7 linked regions of the Homo sapiens genome follow. The protein of the gene in region 1 interacts with the protein of each later gene in a pairwise test. Each region holds a gene or a part of one and is shown in the gene's direction. Other genes may lie near its edges. The genes, in order: NUTM1, PRKAA2, LMO1, LMO3, CCHCR1, RIC8A and FAM161A.

Region 1 (2,460 bases):
CCCACAATAGCTGTGACTAGACGCGCGTCATCACTCTTGGCTAATTTTTTTGGTATCTTTTGTAGAGATGGGTTTTTGCCGTGTTACCCAGGTTGGTCTCAAACTCTTGGGCTCAAGCAATCTGCCCACCTCAGCCTCCCAAAGTGTTGGGTTTATAGGCATGAGCCACCCCACCTGGCCATTCATTTTCTTAAGCTTCCTAAGTTATGACTATAGGGGAAGGAACTATGTGCTGAGCTCCTGAAGTTTCCCTGGAAATACGATTAAGCCACCTGTGACCACCCTCCTGGGTGACATGACTTAGGCAGACTTTGCCCACCTGAGAGCACTTCCTTTCTTGGCCATGCTTGGCTGTCGTCTGGATTTCTGATGGGTCTGGTCTCCTTCTCAGCATTGCCTATGCCTTTCTCACCCTCTGCAGGTTCATGGAGTTTGAGGCTGAGGAGATGCAGATTCAGAACACACAGCTGATGAATGGGTCTCAGGGCCTGTCTCCTGCAACCCCTTTGAAACTTGATCCTCTAGGGCCCCTGGCCTCTGAGGTTTGCCAGCAGCCAGGTGAGGCTACCCAATTTTGACAGGAGCCGTGGGCCAAAGGCTCAAAGGGATGCATACAGAAGCCAGTCACAGATTAGAGAAGGCATAGCCCAGGCTCTGCCACTTTCCCTCTGGAGAGTGGCATTTGATATTCCAAACAGACCACCCCATAGGAGGCTGGGTTCTCAGGTTCCTTTTGCCCTGAACTAGGTATTGATCTTGGTGAAGTAAACTGACTACTCTCACCGAGACTCTAAATTCAGCACATAATACCTCATCTGCCTAAGAAATGGGGACTGGATTAGGGGGTTTCTTGGAATCTCAGGGATTCCAAAATTCCTCATACAGTGATTCTTAGACCCTCTAGGTCCTAAATCTCCCATGGCTGGCGCTTTTTCAGGTTGGCCCAATCCAGCCTGGAACCATTTCAATGTACCCAGATTGCTGAGCTTACAGAGCTGGGAGGCAGAAGCTGTGGTTTCTGTGCTACTTCCCATTCTCCTGTCCATCTCTTACCTTAGTGTACATTCCGAAGGAGGCAGAATCTGTGGTTTCTGTGCTACTTCCCATTCTCCTGTCCATCTCTTCCCTTAGTGTACATTCCGAAGAAGGCAGCCTCCAAGACACGGGCCCCCCGCCGGCGTCAGCGTAAAGCCCAGAGACCTCCTGCTCCTGAGGCACCCAAGGAGATCCCACCAGAAGCTGTGAAGGAGTATGTTGACATCATGGAATGGCTGGTGGGGACTCACTTGGCCACTGGGGAGTCAGATGGAAAACAAGAGGAAGAAGGGCAGCAGCAGGAGGAGGAAGGGATGTATCCAGATCCAGGTCTCCTGAGCTACATCAATGAGCTGTGTTCTCAGAAGGTCTTTGTCTCCAAGGTGAGCTGGGCCTGCACATCTTGTTTCTAGCAGATCCTTGGGGTGGGTACTCCCGGGAACTAATGATCTGGGGTTTGTCCAATGCAGTAGGACTTAGGTTTTATTCTATAACTGAGTAATGTGTGTGCATGCATCATCATGAGAATGTGTGTAGCCGGTGGTGGTCAGTTTACAATACCGGAGGGGTAAGAGGGGAGAGTTGGGGAGCTCTTAGTTTCTTCTGTAAAGCCCCTTGTTTCACAGGTTACCTGCTTACAGACTTACATCGCTTTTCCTTCTGTTATCCAGGTGGAGGCTGTCATTCACCCTCAATTTCTGGCAGATCTGCTGTCCCCAGAAAAACAGAGAGATCCCTTGGCCTTAATTGAGGAGCTAGAGCAAGAAGAAGGACTCACTCTTGCCCAGGTAAAACTGGGGTATAGGAAATATGAGAACGAGAAGCTTGCAAGATTTTATCTAACCCTACACTGTCGTGGGTGATATGGCTCTAGAGATGAACAGCTTCAGGATTGGGCTTCAGGTGCAGAACGAGTAGGTAGAGGGCTATGGAAACACAGGAAATGAGAATGTAAGGGCTCAAAGCATGGGAATAAGGCACAAGAAGGTGGGAAAGAGCTGCAGTATCTGTCTTTGCTACCATCGCTTAAACTACTTGCTTGCCTTCCTTGCCCTGCCCAAATACCGTCTTGTGCCACCCACTCAGCCACCTCTTTCACAACCACGTATAGAACTGACTATTTGTTCATTTCTTTCAGCTGGTCCAGAAGCGACTCATGGCCTTGGAAGAGGAGGAAGATGCAGAGGCGCCTCCAAGTTTCAGTGGCGCTCAGTTGGACTCAAGTCCTTCTGGTTCTGTTGAGGATGAAGATGGGGATGGGCGGCTTCGGCCCTCACCTGGGCTTCAGGGGGCTGGGGGCGCCGCTTGCCTTGGAAAGGTTTCTTCTTCAGGAAAACGGGCAAGAGAAGTGCATGGTGGGCAGGAGCAAGCCCTAGATAGCCCCAGAGGGATGCACAGGGATGGGAACACTCTGCCATCCCCCAG
Region 2 (2,261 bases), on another chromosome or scaffold:
TTTTGAATAATACGTAGAATTTTGACAAGGTTCATACAGTGCATACAGTGTGACCTTTTCTGAGGTGGGCAGGGAGGGTTGCTACGTTGTGTTGATTTAAAATTTCAAGGAGGAACAAAAACATTCTAGCCAAGGAGAATTGCATTGTTATTTTTTTTTCTACTAATTTAAACGTGCATTTTTCACAGTTACACATTTAAGTTTTGCTACCAAAAATGGCCATTTTTCTAGACAGATAACATTTTCCTAAAGTGGAAGAGAGATCCACTGTTCTAAAAAAAAAAAAAAAAAAAAACACTAAATTGTGCCTTCTCCCTTAAATTATAAGAAGAGTAATAGTAAAAACTTGTTTAAACTATATTTTCTTTTTTTCTAATCCCTCTCAGTTCTCCTTAGATCTGCCTCCTACAAATGATCATGTTGTTTGCATCTGCCTGATTGAGTTCCCTTGGTCAAACCTCTCCCTATCACTATCAGAAGTTGTTCACTAAATGTATTTTCCTATTTCTTTCATGTTGATTGACTTTATAAGTCACCTTGGTAAACATAACATTTGGCTACCTTCTCATGCTTTATAAATGAATTTGATGAATGGCAGTTTTTATATTTTAACCCTTTAAAAAGTTTGTCAAGGAAACAACTCAGAGCTAAGAACAAAATCTAACTTGGAATCAGTTTCTTCCTTTGGCTGCTGAAGCAGCAGCAAGTCACGTAACCTCATTTAGTTTTTTGATTTACAAAATGTGGATAATAACCTACCTCACAGATGTGTGTGAGCAACTGTTTGAAAGCCCTTGTTTAAATACAGGGTTTATATCCCCACATTCAATGTAAATTCCTTTTTTTAAAAAAAATAAGTATCTTTGATACTGATAGGATGAGTATCTTGATTTTTAGGTAAGATCACAGTTTCACAAATTGTGGTGTTGTTAGGTGACATTTAATATTTCTTGAGACCTCAAGTATTCAAATATCAAACTTGTCCTGTGTTGTAACAAATATTCAGAATCTCTTAAAATGTTGGCTGAAGCTGCCTTAATGTACCAAAATACAGCTCTCAAGACTGTTCACAAATATCTGTGGTTGTACAATGTTTTGAACATTTAATGTAAAGTTGTTGTAGAACTGTGAACTCTAAGGATAGTATCTTTATTGTTTTAGGAAGAATGGTTGTGTTCTTTGTCATGTATGCTTAAATATACAGTGGATTTTGAATGCAACAAATAAAACTGAAAACAGCCATTTGGTTGTGTCATGACAATCATAATATAGGATATAATATTTACTTTTTTTCAAAAACATCCTGCATTCATTCATTCTTAGCATACCTTTGAAAAAGAAAAAAAAATCCATAGGTTGATACATTGACCCATTGAAGTACTTCATTACGTATTTATTGAAAATTTTTTTTAATTGTTGAAATTGGGACCACTTTTTATAATTGGTTTCAAGAAAAAAAAATGAACAGACTTCCAGTGCTTTTCTGTTCAAATAAACTCCGATTCAAATTTCAGTTTTGTTTGTTATATACTTTTTGTGAGTGTTAAATGATATGGGAAGGATTTGTCTTTCATTAACCATATGGAAAAGATGTCTTCCTGAATTACATAGCATTTCATAGTTACAGATTCTTCCTAATTAATGTTTGCACCATATGAAACTCATAGGTAACAAACACAAAGGAGAAAAGCAGCCTGTCTGATTGCTTATAAGCTTTTTTCACAAAATCAAATTAAAAGTCTCTGATTCATTTGAAAGCTATTTTTGTTTCTGCTCCATCATTATGCTGGTATTCTGCACACCAACTAATAGTTACAGGAAAGTTGTTAGTGGAAAAGATTGCCTATACTCATTGGTGATTTCACACCATCTTTTTTCATTTTTGTCATCTTAGTTGTACATTATAGTTTTTAACTTGAGTTATTGCATTGGTTTTCTACTGTTGCTGTAACAAATTACTACAAACTTAACGACTTAAAATACAAATTATTTTATTGTTCTATATGTTAGAAACCCAGCAGGCTTAGCTGGTTTTTCTGCCTCAAGTCACACAAGCTGAAAACCAAAGCATTGATAGGGCTGGGCTGTGGAGGAGAATCTGTTTCCAGTTGCATTGAGTTGTTGGCAGAATTTCATTCCATGGTGCTGTAGGATTGAGGTCCCTGTTGCCTTTTTGGCTGTTGGCTAGGAATCATTTAAAGCTTCTAGAGGCCATCATCCCTTGGCCCTTGGCTCCCTTCATCTTCAAAACCAGCAACAAG
Region 3 (3,500 bases), on another chromosome or scaffold:
AGCCAGGGTAGATGGAAGAGAGAGTGGGACAGCTGCTTCACGTGCTGGGGCCTCTCACTGTCTCCCTTCATTTTGGGCTATAATTTAGTGGGCTAGGGTCTCCCCTGAGTACGGAGGTTCCAGCCATTCACCCATGTTCTGGTAATAGCCCAAATATAGAGCCCTGGGAGGGGCTCAGGACCACTGGGAAGGGAGCCAGGCCTGCTGCAAGCCTGGCTGAGCAAAAGGAACGTGAGCCTTGTAGGGGCTGTAGCGGGGGCCTGGCCCAAGATTTTCCCAGTCGGTGTTTGAGTGCGTACCTCTGCTGGCTGCATGCTCCCTGCACAGGGCCTAAGGACAAGGTCATGCCCTTGGAGCCCTACCCTGGTCCAGGTCCCACTCTGGGAGGCCCCTCATTTCCCCATCCAGCTATTTTAACTCCTCTCCCATTTCCCCACACCTCCCTGTAGGCCAGGACTTGGAAGGAGCCTCACAAGACCCCTTCAGTTCTCAGGGGTATCTGCTCCCCAGCTGCCCTCCTTGGGCTCTTTCAGAGCTCTGTGCCAGGCTGGGCCCTGCTAGAAGAGACACAGGCAGGCCCGAGGACAGAGTCATCCTGTGCCCCATCCCTCTCTCAGACCAATTAACCTTTAGAGCTGCATTAAGGAAATTAGGCAGCACACTCACCAGCTAACAGACAGGCCCTGCCGGGACTGCAGGGAGGAGAAGGAGGAGGGAGCCACTGGCCCTGCACACTGTAGCCTGTGGGTGGGCGCCAGCTCCCCAGACTCACCTGTCCAGGAGAAGTCTGAGGAGCCAGCTGGGCTGAGAGCGAGCACAGGAGAGGAGAAGGAGCCCTGGGGCCAGCTTGACGGTGGCTGACTCAAGCCCCTGTAACTGTCTGAGCCTCAATTTCCCCATCTGTAGTATGAGAACATTTAACTGGGAGAACTCTGAGGGCTCTTCTGACCTTACATCTGTGGATTCTGAGACCAAGGCCTCTTGTGGCTTGTTCTCCCCTAACGCCCAAGGAGGAGAGAAGCAAAAGGAAGGGAAGCAGCCCAACCATTCAGACTCTGGGCTGGGGGCAGTGAGGAGGGCTGGGAATGGGAGGGACACCAGGGGATGGGAGGAAGGCCAGAGCCCTGGAGAGAGCAGGGGTCCTTTGGAGAGGACGGGGCCAGTAGAAGGACAGACTCCAGGGGAGTGTTGGAAAGCCGGGGAGGTGGGGAGGGGTGGGCCCCTATCCAGCTGCGCCTTGGTCAGGAACGGAGCATGCACACGCTCCCTGTCTTCACAAGGGTTCTCAGGCAACTGCCACAGGCTCCCGCCCTGTCAAGTCACAGAGCAGGGCTTCTGAGGTCCTCTGCACTTCCCTCCCAGCCTCACGGGTCCACATGGATGTCCAGGCTACTGGACGACATATGTCCCCATCTCCTCCTCAACGGTCCCTGTGGTTCCAGGAGAAGGGACTAGGAACCCGTGCCTCTGTCACTTCATGCCCACACCTGCACGTCGTGCCTGTGTGTGAGGGGTGTGTGTGAGCGCACATGCTCGCCTGCCGCGACGGGAGGCTCTGCCCTGTGGTGAACATCACATTGGGCCCTTTGTACTTGGTGCCTGTGTGTATGTTGGGAAGCTGGTATGGGCCCTGGGAGGGACTGATGGCTGAGAGATCCTAATCCTGGTAGAATGAGGAAGGATCCAGAGGCTCAGAGCCTGCCCTCCCCCAGGCCAGGGCAGGTGAGGTGTGACACCGCCTGAAGCATTCCCAAGGGGAGCCCCAGCCAGGCCCTGCCAGCTGCCTCCGCTTACCTGCCAGGAGCCCCAGAGCCTCTGCTCCCTCCTGGGAGTGTCCCAGGGGCGTCTCACTTCCTTCTTGATGCCATCACAGCTCTACATGGATAGACCAAGAGGCTGTAGCACTTCAGCTGGAGAAAGACGAGTTGGCACAAAGATCTGGGGGTTCTAGAGGACCTCGTGGGCCTGAGGAGACTACATTTCTTAGGCTTATTGCTGAAAGAGCCAATGTGATGGTGGCTTCACAAGACGAGCTTCAGGCTTACTCCGGATGAGACCGCACAGGGGATAGAGGCCATGGTAGGGAGGAACAACTCAGGGAGGCCAGGCCTGGGGTCTGTGTGTGCCTTGGAGCAGAGCAGCCTCTGGAGGGACCTTCACAGGGCCAGGGAAACAGGCTGTGCCATGTAGCCCAAAGGGCAGGACCCGGAGCCAGGGGAGGAGGTTATTGGGGAGAAAGCGAGGGCTCCTGGGAGCCCCAAACCTAGAGGGGGCAGCAGAGAGAAGCAGTGAGCTCCCCATTCTTGGGGGATATTCCTTGAGGCCCAGAGCTACGGGGCCCATCCTGCGTTGCTGTCTGTCTGTCCGTCTGCAGGCGTGCCGATGCTCTCCGTCCAGCCCAAAGGGAAGCAGAAGGGCTGTGCGGGCTGTAACCGCAAGATCAAGGACCGCTATCTGCTGAAGGCATTGGACAAGTACTGGCACGAAGACTGCCTCAAGTGTGCCTGCTGTGACTGCCGCCTGGGCGAGGTGGGCTCCACCCTCTACACCAAGGCCAACCTCATCCTGTGCCGACGCGACTACCTGAGGTGGGCTGCCAAACCCTGGCCTCCCAAGCCCTTGTCCTGCTCAGAAAGCTCCCCATCCTCAGCCCCAGCGTGACTGTGCCCCCGGCCCTAGACCCAGTACCCTGTGTGTCCTCTCATTCTTGACTGTCCTGCCCCTGCCCTGCTTGCCCCAGATACCTGAGAAGTCACCTGAGGGGAAGGCCCAGGTCGTTATGCCCTTGGACTCGGTACCCAGCACAAGTCCAGGGCAGGCATTTGTAACCTGGGGCCCCTAAGTTAAGCTTTCCGAGGGCCCCAGTCTGGCTCCGCCCCCCTGCCTTGGCCAGGTGCTTCTGACCCACCTGATCTGGAATCTGGGAGGGGATACCTCAGAGGGGCTTTGAGAACAGGTGTGGAAGCTTTGACTTCCCCAGGACCCTCCTCCCTAATGCAGTCTCTTTCCATCTCCCAGTGTCCAACTTTCCTTTCTAGATGGTCCTTGGGAGCAGGCATCCATTTGCCCAGGGAAACTGGCAGGCAGCCATATCCTAGGAGCAGGGCCACTGATGCTGGAGCTTCAAGACCTGGGTTGGAACTAGCTGTGAGCCTTTGGCTCCTAATCTTCTCCCAGCCTCAGTTTACTTCCCCGTGAAGGGTGAAAGAATGATGCTTCCCTGCCTTGCATTCCTCTGAGCTCTAACTCACCCTCCCTACAATTTGGATCCTATTCCCTGGGGCCACCTCCCCCAATTAACCCTCCCTGAGGCCATTTATGACATCAGCAAGGCTGGAAGGAGGCCACAAAGCAGGGCCTTGGCTGAGACCCAGCACCTGCATTTGGCTCTGTCGCAGGCTGCTGGATGGTTGCCGGGCTTGTGGGGAAGGAGGGCTCATCGCATTAATTAACAGGTCGGGGCAAGGGCTTCATGGGGCTCCCTCTGCCCAGGTCTGGGC
Region 4 (3,500 bases), on another chromosome or scaffold:
ATTAGAGAAATGATATATGGCATCATTGGGATTTTCATATTTAATACAATTTATCATTTTTCTGGTCTGACATTAAGCGATTTATTTGGAATTTTTTCCCTTATGACAAAATTTATCAATCAATGGTAACTCCTTTAGTACCTTGGTCATTTGATGAGGTGTTTTCTAGGGAATTTGGTCGTTCTTAGTATATAATTCAGCTATTTTCAGTCAGATCCAATCTTTAGATATAAAAATATATCATTTGATTAATGGTAGTTACAAGAGGGTGAAAGCGGTACTGTTTATCAGATTCTACTCCTTCTCGCTCTTAGGACGGCCTCATCTGACAGCCTCCTGACTAATTATGGCCACTTGTTACTACTTCTCTGTGTTCCAAGTGCGTAAAACACATGCAAGGTGCCAACAATGAGAAGTCACTCTCTCCAGCCAGGATTTCCCTCATTGTGTTGGCACAACGAATCAAAATTAATGTACAATGTTCATTTTTTTAGAACTCTCCGGTCTTTGAACTTTCCTCTTTGAAATAAAAATTTCTCTTCTGCCCATTGTGAATTAGAGCCTCATTTCCACATAAAGCATTTGTATTTGCTTTTAGTGATTTAATACTGCTTTTTAGTTTTGCTTTATCTGTACTAACCAATAGTCATAGCTTTTTGACTCCTTTTGACTTTTACATTTGTTTGTAATTTCAGTATCTCAAGTGGATTTATGTTACCATTTCAAATAAGGAGTTTATATAGCCCGGGCAATGTTAAGGTGTTTTAATAAACCAAAGGACAAAAATTAAGTAAACTTGAAAGAATGTCAACTGAAATATCTGGGGTTTTTGAAAACAAAAATAAAAATTTGCCAAGGAAATACCTATATTGTGAGTATAACATGCTTCTTAGCTGTCAACATAGCATCGAGCAAAGACAGTAATCTTAGATTTGTTTTGTTTTCTTTTTCCTTGTGGTAGTAAAAATATATTTGATAGTCTCAAGTGTTTTGCTAAAACGCATTTATCAAAAATAGTTTTCATATCAGAAGTTTTTGTATCTCTATAAGAGTGTATGTGGCTTTTTGTAGAATAACTTTCAGTTACCTCCTGATAGGCTCAAACTTTTAATGGTGGTTAACTTATTAAAAGTATATAATATTCTTTCAAATATAAACCCTGGTCCTGATTGCCAATATATTCATTTCTCAGAGTACGATTTCCGCTTAAATTGGTCATTACCACATTAATGGCCAGTTGTTATGTTAACAGCCTAACGGTTGTTAACATTTCAAACTAAGTTGTTAACAGCAATCTTGTCCCTTATTTAAACTGAAAGTTTGTTGTATATAATGTGACTTATTTGGCAACTTCATCAACACTTAAAATTGCAGAAGTGAAGTGGAGAATTGGTGTGTGTAAAACACTGTGTTACGTGTTATAGATTATGCCGCAGATGTGGTATTTAGTTTTATGTGGAAAGCATGTGTCTCAGTGAAATTGTGTAGATGTTCAACTGCATATGTCTCTGATTGGCAAATTAAAATAGTCTGATTCTGTATGGTAAATCAACAAATATAGTCAAGCAGATTTTATTTACAAATTAATTTCTTTGATTAGATACAAATAGTTGTTCAAAAATGTTTATTAAATGCTTACTGTGTGAGAGGTATGATTTCAGGCAATGGGTGAAATTAGCTAAAGGAAAAAGGAAGGTACACCTAAAGTTGCCACTATCTAATTGTTTATTTAATTACATAGAATCTGTAATATAATCAGTGAACAAGTAATATTCTGTGGTTATTTTCCTGAGCTTTAAAAGTAATTTTTCTCATTTTCCTCCAAATTCAGCATACTTCCATTTTGTATTTTATATAACCAATGTTTAATCACTTAAGTTCTATTTTAAAAGTTGTTTTATTTTTGGCCCTTTGATATTATGTAATTTCTCTGAGGCACCAAACTGAACATAAATAACTTACATATTTATATTTCATGTCTAAATTATTAAGAACATAAGTAAGAATAAGGAAAGTAATAAAATAGTAATTTGCCTGTCCACATATATTGTTGGTTACAAGTATTGTCCTGGGCCAGATAATTTTTTACATACAGTGAAAAGTAAAATATTTTTGCCAATTACATTTAGCTTCTTAATACACTTCTCCCTCCATAAACAGAAAGAAAGAAACACTCCTAATTATGAGCAATGAGACTTAAAGATCTGTGTTTTACTTGTGTTACTTTGAGTAGTGATAATGATGATGTGATTTATAAGTTCTTTGAATGATGATTTGAGATATTAAATAATATGAAAATATAATAATTTAGACTGTAAGATATTTTCTTAAGGGTTATAGAAACTATTATTATGGAAAATTTGATGTCTTTCCATTTTTTTTCTCCTTTATGGCACTAGTAGCTATATTTAAGAGAAAAAGAAAGAAAAATCTTCCATAGTTTGTACACTAAGTATCAAATCTTAACAGTGGAATTTTTCACTTTCCAGAACTGGACTGGCATATCATTCATTTAGCTGTGGAACATAAAATGTACATATCTGATGAGACAGAATTTGCCCATTTGTGGGATTGCTTTCCTCCTTTGGAAACTCATTAGCTAAAGAAAGAGAAGGACTGACTTTTTAAAACTTCCTCTAACATGTTTCTGACTGAAATTATGAAATCTACCCAGTCAATATTTATATGCCAGGCAGACCAAGAAATGTATCTGTTAAAAATCTATCCAATGCATTTATAATTATTTTTATTTTTTTGAAGAGTAACTTATGACAAATTAGATATAGAAACATCTTTGTACTTTAAGTTGGAGCTTAAAATTGATATTGTCTAAAGTAGATTAAAAATGACTGTGTAAAAATAGCAAAGTTGTAGTGATAATGTTTAAGGTACTCATCACTGCGATCTATCCGCCTTATTTCAGTTTGAAAAAATATGAATAAAGTAGCCAGCCAGTGCATAATCAGAGTCTTAGAATTAGGAATTCTACATGCTTTTATTTAATGTTTTGCAGCAAGCATTAAATAGAACTAGGAGAAATACCAAAATACTTTCTTTTTCAACTTGAAGGCAATAAAGGATGTCAGAATGTAACTGGAACTCAACTTCTGGGCAATTTTTTTGTTGTTCTTTCTTTGAACCTGCAACTTTTTGTGACGTACTTTAAGCATTAAGTCTATATAGGCTGTATGTATCTTGTATCTCTATGAATGATATCTTGCCAGAGTTTATTCAAAGCTGTTTGCTGTGGTATGTGCCATGGAAGCTGCTTATAGCTTTTCCTATATAAGAAGCTGTAAAATGTCTTATATAAAATTTAATGCAATTTGCTATTTTTATACGTGAGGATGATTTGTTTAAAATGAAACTACTGGGAAAGAGTGATGCTTCATGCTTCACCATAGTTGCTAATTAACTAAAATGATTTGAAGCTTGCTATGCTGACTACAAATTTTATAGGCTTTAATATAATAATATAATAACTCTAAAAGAGAAAATAA
Region 5 (2,932 bases), on another chromosome or scaffold:
TAGGGACGGGGTTTCACCATGTTGGCCAGGCTGGTCTTGAACTCCTGACCTCAGGTGATCCACCCACCTCAGCCTCCCAAAGTGCTGGAATTATAGGTGTGAGCCACTGCACCTGGCCTAGTCTATTTATTTAAAGCTATATACTTACTTGCTTATTATATACTTAACTTGCTTACTATTCCATCTAAAATGTAAGCCAGTTAGTTTCCTTCTAAATCAATTGCCAGCCTTTGTCTCTCCTACCAACTTCCTAGTTGTTTCATTACCTACAATTGTTGTATGACCTTCAGAAAAACCTCTAAGAAAACAGCAAAGCTTCTTTGTGCTGGTGATGACTTCCCCTCAGCCTTAGACACTGAGGTACCCAAGGCAGGTAGTTCTTTTTTTTTTTTTTTTTTTTTTTGAGACAGAGTCTCGCACTGTCACCCAGGCTGGAGTGCAATGGCACGATCTCAGCTCACTGCAACCTCTGCCTCCCGGGTTCACACGATTTTCCTGCCTCAGCCTCCTGAGTAGCTGGGATTACAGGTGCACACCACCACACCCGGCTACTTTTTTGTATTTTTAGTAGAGACAGGGTTTCACTGTGTTGGCCAGGCTGGTCTCAAACTTCTGACCTCGTGATCCGCCCGCCTCGGCCTCCCAAAGTGCTGGGATTACAGGCTTGAGCCACCGTGCCTGGCCGGCAGGTAGTTCTTAGCACAGTCTCTGGCTTGTAAATGTTTATTGTTATCGTGAGGCTCTTCTTGATGGGTTAATTTAGATAAAGATAATTTTTGGTTTAGCGAAATTAAGATGCAGGATGAGTCCTTGCCCATCACTTCCTTCTCTTGGATTTGTACCTTAGGGACTAATTTAGCTTTAAAAATTATGAAAAATTTCAAACTTGCACGGAATTAAACTAGTTATAATGACCTACCACCCAGGTTCAATCCATCGCGGGTGCCCCCTACCTCCAGGAGAACAGAAAGATGCACTGTGGACAGGGTTTGACTTTGGTACCAGGCGATCACAGAAATGGTCTGTGTAATGATGCATTTGCCGAAAGTCCTCCAGGCTTAAAGCAGTCCAAACTCTGATTGTTGCTGGGTTTATTAGATTGTCTCTAGGTAATTGGAGACTTTAATAAGGGCTGTGGTAGGTGTTGGAAGCATCTACTGGAACAATTTCCAGATCAAAGTGAACTTTGCTGTGCTGCTGGGGATGCAGCTGCAAGCCTTCATCATCATGTGTTTTTCTGTGGGTGCAGACCTGGACTCTCCTGAGGAAACCCCAGCCCGGCCCCAGACACTCCTTGGCCTCCTCCTGGGGCCTGTTTAAGCTGCTCAGTTTTCATGAGCCAGGTTGGTCCTACTTCTGGCACAGCCAGCTGGTAAAGCATGTGGACCTGCCCGTCATTGGTGCTAGATCGACACTCCTGGGCTTGGAGAGGATAACTTTGTTTTCTTTTGTTTTTTTGAGATGGAGTCTCGCTCTGTCACCCAGTCTTGAGGGCAGGGGTGCGATCTTGGCTCACTGGAACCTCCACCTCCTAGGTTCAAGTGATTCTCGTGCCTCAGCTTCTGGAGTAGCTGGGATTACAGGCATGAGCCACCATGCCCGGCTAATTTTTGTGTTTTTAAGTAGAGAGAGTTTCACCATGTTGGCCAGGCTAGTCTCCAATTCCTGACTTCAGGTGATCCGCCCGCCTCGGCCTCCCAAAGTGCTGGGATTACAGGCAGGAGCCACTGCCCCTGATCAGAGAGGATAACTTTACTCTTTGATACACGATAGTGAGCAAAACACAGTTGTGAGAAATAAGCTTAACAGGTTGCTTAAAAAGATAGTCATTTAATGCATTCTTGGGGCAAGGGTCCTTTAGATAATTGACGGAAGCTGTGCGTTCTGTACTTGTATAATGGGACAGGATTAGAGGGAGTTGTCTATACAAGGCACAGCAAGTCCTTTGGGAATGAGGGGAGGCATGGAGGATCAGTGACTTGTGCCCTCTCCAGCTCTCAGATCTGGCTCGAGACCACCATGGCTAAGGTGGAAGGGGCTGCCGCCCAGCTTCCCAGCCTCAACAACCGACTCAGCTATGCTGTCCGCAAGGTCCACACCATTCGGGGTGCGTAGGACAACTGCGAGCCACGTCCTGCCCCCACCCCACCAGCTCGGACTTTCTTCTTCCTGACCCAGCTCTCTCTGATCCCACATCCATTCACCTTCCTCCTTTCACCAGTCCTTGCATCTCTTTTTCCCTTACTCCCTGTCCCCACTTTCTCCCATGCAAACTTCATCTCTTTTTCTCCCTGCTTTTTCCCCTCCAGGCCTGATTGCTCGAAAGCTTGCCCTTGCTCAGCTGCGCCAGGAGAGGTGAAGTTTGGGCACTTTGAGGTGGATGGGGCTTTAGGGCATTGGCTGCTGGGACCCCCAAAACCATGAGGACTGAGGTGGGATGGGGGCTTTGGGATCAGGCAGCTGGGTGATTTCTTCTGACTCTTTCTCTTCCCCGTCCCAGCTGTCCCCTACCACCACCGGTCACAGACGTGAGCCTTGAGTTGCAGCAGTTGCGGGAAGAACGGAACCGCCTGGATGCAGAACTGCAGCTGAGTGCCCGCCTCATCCAGCAGGAGGTGGGCCGGGCTCGGGAGCAAGGTACACCTGGTTGCCAGGGGGTGGAGAGGATGAGGAAAAACCCGGTGTCTAGGGTGCTGGGAGAGGCCTGACCCAGCACCCCCTCCTTTTAGGGGAGGCAGAGCGGCAGCAGCTGAGCAAGGTGGCCCAGCAGCTGGAGCAGGAGCTGCAGCAGACCCAGGAGTCCCTGGCTAGCTTGGGGCTGCAGCTGGAGGTAGCACGCCAGGGCCAGCAGGAGAGCACAGAGGAGGCTGCCAGTCTGCGGCAGGAGCTGACCCAGCAGCAGGAACTCTACGGGCAAGGTGTCGAGAGGGAA
Region 6 (2,453 bases), on another chromosome or scaffold:
TTACCTGTGCCGCTTCTGGAGGGAGGCCTCTTCCTGCAGTTGCCTTGCCCACCTCACCCCACTGGGAAAATAGGTGGCTTGCCTCCTGTCCTGGAGAGTCACTAATGCATTCCCCACATTCCACCCACTGGGAAACAGCATAAACCCTGTGACCGGGAGGGTGGAGGAGAAGCCGCCTAACCCTATGGAGGGCATGACAGAGGAGCAGAAGGAGCACGAGGCCATGAAGCTGGTGACCATGTTTGACAAGCTCTCCAGGTGTGTGGCATGAGGAGGAGGGGCCTGCAGCTGGGAGAAGGGAGAGCTGACCCACATCCTGTCTTGTGAGCCCCAGGAGGTAGGATCAGAGGAGAGCTTAGGATCCTGGTATTAGGTTGCATTGCTCACGTTTGAAATCACTTGCCCTGGAGGAAATCCCCCAGGGGATGGGTATATTGAGATCAGTATTGTGCCCCTTTTACAGATGATAACTGAGGCCCAGAGAAATTAAGAGACTGTCTAAGGCCGGGCGTGGTAGCTCACGCCTATAATCCCAGCACTTTGGGAGACTGAGGCAGGTAGATCACAAGGTCAGGAGATCGAGACCATCCTGGCCAACATGGTGAAACCCCATCTCTGCTAAAATACAAAAAAAAAGTTAGCTGGGCGTGGTGGTGGGCGCCTGTAGTCCCAGCTGCTCGGGAGGTTGAGGCAGGGGAATCACTTGAACCCAGGAGGCAGAGCTTGCAGTGAGCTGACATTGTGCCACCGCACTCCAGCCTGGCAACAGAGTGAGACTTCGTCTCAAAAAAAAAAAAGAGACTAATGTCGCCAGATTTATTGGAGATGGCCCAGTGTCCAAATTAAGAGCCTGCTTAAGGCCAATTTAGATGTTTAAAATAGGAAACTGCTTAAAGCCAGGAGGCAGCAGTTAGGGTTTGGGCCCAGTTAACAGAAGGTCCAACCAGGCTTCCCCAGTAAATGGGAGCAGCCTACTTGGTAGAGAGGAAGGTAGCAGCCACGGGTGAGTAGGACCCCTGCCTGGCCAACTGGGCCCCTTCCCCAGCCCCACTGCACCTTTCCCCAACAGGAACAGAGTCATCCAGCCAATGGGGATGAGTCCCCGGGGTCATCTTACGTCCCTGCAGGATGCCATGTGCGAGACTATGGAGCAGCAGCTCTCCTCGGACCCTGACTCGGACCCTGACTGAGGATGGCAGCTCTTCTGCTCCCCCATCAGGACTGGTGCTGCTTCCAGAGACTTCCTTGGGGTTGCAACCTGGGGAAGCCACATCCCACTGGATCCACACCCGCCCCCACTTCTCCATCTTAGAAACCCCTTCTCTTGACTCCCGTTCTGTTCATGATTTGCCTCTGGTCCAGTTTCTCATCTCTGGACTGCAACGGTCTTCTTGTGCTAGAACTCAGGCTCAGCCTCGAATTCCACAGACGAAGTACTTTCTTTTGTCTGCGCCAAGAGGAATGTGTTCAGAAGCTGCTGCCTGAGGGCAGGGCCTACCTGGGCACACAGAAGAGCATATGGGAGGGCAGGGGTTTGGGTGTGGGTGCACACAAAGCAAGCACCATCTGGGATTGGCACACTGGCAGAGCCAGTGTGTTGGGGTATGTGCTGCACTTCCCAGGGAGAAAACCTGTCAGAACTTTCCATACGAGTATATCAGAACACACCCTTCCAAGGTATGTATGCTCTGTTGTTCCTGTCCTGTCTTCACTGAGCGCAGGGCTGGAGGCCTCTTAGACATTCTCCTTGGTCCTCGTTCAGCTGCCCACTGTAGTATCCACAGTGCCCGAGTTCTCGCTGGTTTTGGCAATTAAACCTCCTTCCTACTGGTTTAGACTACACTTACAACAAGGAAAATGCCCCTCGTGTGACCATAGATTGAGATTTATACCACATACCACACATAGCCACAGAAACATCATCTTGAAATAAAGAAGAGTTTTGGACAAAAATGTATGTGTAAATTATCAAATAAAGGGGCCAGGCACAGTGGCTCATGCCTGTAATCCCAGCACTTTGGGAGGCCGAGGTGGGTGGATCACTTGAAGCCAGGAGTTCGAGACCAGCCTGGCCAACATAGCAAAACCTTGTCTCTATTACAAATATGCCCATGTGCTAGGTGTGGTGGGACACACCTGTAATCCCAGCTACCCAGGAGAATCGCTTAAACCCGGGAGGCGGAAGTTGCAGTGAGCTGAGATCATAACACCGCACTCCACCCTGAGTGACAGGGCAAGACTCAAAAAATAAAAAAGGAACATTAACTAGGGTTAGAAACTAACTTCATTCTTTTTAGAATTCAACAGTTTTCCTAGGTCACCAATTCCACCTTTTGTTCTTATTAAGGCGCAAAGTCACAGGACCCCCTTCCTGGGAGTCACTGTCATTAAATCTATTGCCGTCAGCTCAGCCCAGGGTAGGCAAGGTTCAAGAATGGGAAGTGCTTTTGTCT
Region 7 (3,500 bases), on another chromosome or scaffold:
ACGTCTTTCCATCTTTCTGTTTCCCAGTCAGCTCTATCACAGTTAGATCGGAATTCAGTGTTATAACTTAGTAAACAATGTTAGCAGCTGAGCCCTATATTATTATCATCACATTTCCTTTTTTTTTTTTTTTTTGAGACAGAGTCTCACTCTGTCACCCAGGCTGGAGTACAGTGTCACAATCTCAGCTCACTGCAACCTCTGCCTCCTGGGTTCAAGCCATTCTCCTGCCTCAGCCTCCTGAGTAGCTGGGATTACAGGTGCGCGCCACCGTGCCTAGCTAATTTTTTTGTATTTTTTAGTAGAGACGAGGTTTCACCATGTTGGTCAGGCTGGTCTCGAACTCCTGACCTGATGATCCGTCTGCATTGGCCTCCCAAAGTGCTGGGATTACAGGCGTGAACCACCATGCCTGGCCCATCACATTTCCTTTAAAAAAATTTTTTCTTGTGTTAATAATTACTAATTTTGTTTGGTCCTCCCCCCACCTTCCCTCATTCCCCACCAATGTATGTATCATTATTATTCTTAGGCTTTTCTGTTAGCTCTCAAAAATCCCCCTCAAACAGTTAAACACATTCGTAATTCATCAGTTCCTTTCCTCCCCTGGAGCCCACAAGTGTCCTGCTCCACTTTGGAATGGTTTCTCTCTAGGCCAGCAGTCCTCAACCTTTTTGGCGCTAGAGACTGGTTTTATGGAAGACCATTTTTCCACAGACCAGGGTTGCGTGGGGTGGGGTGGATGGATCGGGAAATGGATCATTTCAGGATGAAACTGTTCCACCTCACATCATCAGGCGTTAGATTCTCATAAGGAGCATGCAACCTAGATCCCTGGCATGAGCACTTCACGATAGGGGTCACCCTCCTATGAAAATCTAACGCTGTAGGAGGCAGGGCTCAGGCCATAATGCTCGCCCTCCCACTGCTCACTTCCTGCTGTGCAGCCTGGTTCCTAACAGGCCACAGACCCGTACCTAGTTCGTGGTAGGGACCCCTGCTCTAGGCCTCTGGCATAAACGACATCTTAGGACTTTTTCACTGTTATACTGGGGAGTAGTTAGATATTAACCTGGATTTATCTACATTTCTTGTATTTCTTTTAAAATCACTGTTATTTTATTCTAGTTCTGGAAGATTTCCTCAAATTTATCTTCCAAATCTGCATTTTTTGCTTACCTAATGAAAAATGACATAATTTCCAGAATGCTTCCCATTTATTAAATATTCCTTTGGTATTTTTCATGGGTGCAGTACGTTTTTTTTTGTTGTTGTTGGTTTTTTGTTGTTGTTGTTGTTGGTTTTTTTTTGTGTGTGTGTGACAGGGTCTTACTCTGTCCCAGGCTGGAGTGCAGTGGCATGATCTCGGCTCACTGCAACTTTAACCCCTTGGGCTCAGGCAATCTTCCCACCTCAGCCTCCCAAGTAGTTAGGACTACAGGCACAAGCTACCATGCCAGGCTAATTTTTGTATTTTTTGTAAAGACAGGGGTGTTACTGTGTTGTCCATGCTGGTCTTAAGCTCCTGGGCTCAAGAAATCCTCCTTTCTCGGCCTTCCAAAGTGTCGGGATTCCAAGTGTGAGCCACCACACCCAGCCTGTCTTTTATATCTCTGAGCATACTGGTGATATTGTCTCTGTTTCCTTCAAGTTCCTTTTTCTCTTTTTTAGCCTCTTGTCTATCATATTAGAAGCTTTCCTCAGATTATCTTTGGTTGTCTGTTTGCATTTAAGAGGGAGACTGCACAAAGCTATTTGGAAGCTGGTTTATAATGTTTTTTGAGAGGTTGCTGAAAGACAAGCACTCCACTAAGCACTTTATATGCATTGTCTTAACTGACCTTTACACTGCTCCTGTGAGGTTCTTATTTCACAGATGAGGGACATCTTGAGGCTTAGATGATACAACCAGAAGAAGGGGAACCAGGATTCAAACCCAGATCTGACTGTCTTCATGTGATTCTTTTATCTATCATATTGTTTTCCTGCCCCCTTCTCAACAAATGCTTTTTGAATATCAGAAAATCCCTTGAGACCCTTAAAGTCAGATAGAAACAAGACAGACAAATGTAGTCATTCAAGACACACAATTGCAGCAATTACAGATGTGTGTTGAGACAAAATTGTGAATATGATTGTTTTGGAGGTTGGGGGAATGGTCAGATTGATATGTTATTTTTTTCTGTTAACCTCAATTCCAGGGAGCAGGTACATAACCTGGGAATACTAATATTTGTGTTAGTGACATGCGAGGCTTGTTCCAACAGGTCTAGAAAAAAAAAAGGAAAGTAAATAAATGCTAAATTAAAGGAATCATTATGGGTGATACTATAATACAAGAAAGAAAGTATGAAGTATTATTTGGGAAGACCAATATTGAACACATATGCAGCAATGATTTATTATAGTGCTGTTTGTCTAAGAAATATCTTTTTTTTTTTTTTTTTTTGAGAAGGCGTCTCACTCTGTCACCCAGGCTGGAGTGCAGTGGCTCGATCTCAGCTCACTGGAACCTCCGCCTCCCGGGTTCAAGTGATTCTCCTGCCTTAGCCTCCTGAGTATCTGTGATTACAGGCGCGTGCCACCATGCCTGGCTAATTTTTTTTGTATTTTTAGTCAAGACGAAGTTTCATCATGTTGGTCAGGCTGGTCTCGAACTCCTGACCTTGTGATCTGCCCACCTCAGCCTCTCAAAGTTCCGGGATTACAGATGTGAACCACCACATCCAGCCAGAAATATCTTTATATTAGAAAAATTAGGCCAGTGACTCACCCTGTAATCCCAACACTTTGGGAAACTGAGGGGGGGAGGATCATTTGAGGCCAAGAGTTTGAGACCAGTGTCTACTGTTCTCATTTTTTTTTTTTTTTTTTTTTGAGACAGGGTCTTACTCTGTCACCCAGGCTGGAGTGCAGTGGCGTGATCTCGGCTCACTGCAACCTCTGCCTCCTGGGTTCAAGTGATTCTCCTGCCTCAGTCTCCTGAGTAGCTGGGATTACAGGTGCACACCACCATGCCCGGCTAATTTTTTTTGTATTTTTAGTAGAGACGGGATTTCACCATGTTGGCCGGGCTGGTCCTGAACTCCTGACCTCAAGTGATCCACCTGCCTCGGCCTCCCAAAGTACTGGGATTACAGGAGTGAGCCACCGTGCCTGGCCTACTGTTCTCATCTTCATATCTGTGTGTACCCAGTTCCTCCCCATTCAGCTGGTCATTGAGAGACCTGTCAAATTTTCTTCCTAAATAATTTTTGGATCTGCCCTTCACCATCCTTGGTGGTGAAATGCCAGGTGGAACCTTTATTTCCTATCTGAATCATAATAGTTTGATTGATTTTTCTGCCTTGCTCTTTGCAGAACCATTCATTATACCTTCGCCTTACCATTTTCATTCCCCTACTAAAATGTTAACCCTGGGTAGACAATTAATAAGCCTTTATAACAGGGACAATCATCCATTCTCACCAATTCCATTTATTCTCATTTTCAATGAATGA

What was found.
Region 2: the proteins of NUTM1 (region 1) and PRKAA2 interact in binary tests that used the Homo sapiens proteins (3 or more experiments, as listed by UniProt).
Region 3: the proteins of NUTM1 (region 1) and LMO1 interact in binary tests that used the Homo sapiens proteins (3 or more experiments, as listed by UniProt).
Region 4: the proteins of NUTM1 (region 1) and LMO3 interact in binary tests that used the Homo sapiens proteins (3 or more experiments, as listed by UniProt).
Region 5: the proteins of NUTM1 (region 1) and CCHCR1 interact in binary tests that used the Homo sapiens proteins (3 or more experiments, as listed by UniProt).
Region 6: the proteins of NUTM1 (region 1) and RIC8A interact in binary tests that used the Homo sapiens proteins (3 or more experiments, as listed by UniProt).
Region 7: the proteins of NUTM1 (region 1) and FAM161A interact in binary tests that used the Homo sapiens proteins (3 or more experiments, as listed by UniProt).

What each region holds. Positions count from the first base shown.
Region 1 is NC_000015.10:34,353,315-34,355,774, forward strand, and holds part of NUTM1 (NUT family member 1), read left to right. Parts: intron 1-421; coding exon 422-558; intron 559-1,131; coding exon 1,132-1,418; intron 1,419-1,706; coding exon 1,707-1,823; intron 1,824-2,173; coding exon 2,174-2,460. UniProt on the Homo sapiens protein: Plays a role in the regulation of proliferation. Regulates TERT expression by modulating SP1 binding to TERT promoter binding sites.
Region 2 is NC_000001.11:56,713,575-56,715,835, forward strand, and holds the end of PRKAA2 (5'-AMP-activated protein kinase catalytic subunit alpha-2), read left to right. Parts: 3' UTR 1-1,761; downstream 1,762-2,261. UniProt on the Homo sapiens protein: Catalytic subunit of AMP-activated protein kinase (AMPK), an energy sensor protein kinase that plays a key role in regulating cellular energy metabolism.
Region 3 is NC_000011.10:8,229,379-8,232,878, reverse strand, and holds part of LMO1 (rhombotin-1), read left to right. Parts: exon of another isoform or gene 1-7; intron 8-772; exon of another isoform or gene 773-900; intron 901-1,794; exon of another isoform or gene 1,795-1,910; intron 1,911-2,374; coding exon 2,375-2,588; intron 2,589-2,600; exon of another isoform or gene 2,601-3,318; coding exon of another isoform or gene 3,319-3,455; intron 3,456-3,500. UniProt on the Homo sapiens protein: May be involved in gene regulation within neural lineage cells potentially by direct DNA binding or by binding to other transcription factors.
Region 4 is NC_000012.12:16,596,163-16,599,662, reverse strand, and holds part of LMO3 (LIM domain only protein 3), read left to right. Parts: intron 1-695; coding exon of another isoform or gene 696-768; exon of another isoform or gene 769-871; intron 872-3,500.
Region 5 is NC_000006.12:31,144,871-31,147,802, reverse strand, and holds part of CCHCR1 (coiled-coil alpha-helical rod protein 1), read left to right. Parts: intron 1-1,994; coding exon 1,995-2,107; intron 2,108-2,309; coding exon 2,310-2,355; intron 2,356-2,500; coding exon 2,501-2,637; intron 2,638-2,729; coding exon 2,730-2,918; intron 2,919-2,932. UniProt on the Homo sapiens protein: May be a regulator of keratinocyte proliferation or differentiation.
Region 6 is NC_000011.10:213,161-215,613, forward strand, and holds the end of RIC8A (chaperone Ric-8A), read left to right. Parts: intron 1-138; coding exon 139-258; intron 259-1,069; coding exon 1,070-1,190; 3' UTR 1,191-1,953; downstream 1,954-2,453.
Region 7 is NC_000002.12:61,830,061-61,833,560, reverse strand, and holds part of FAM161A (protein FAM161A), read left to right. Parts: intron 1-3,500. UniProt on the Homo sapiens protein: Involved in ciliogenesis.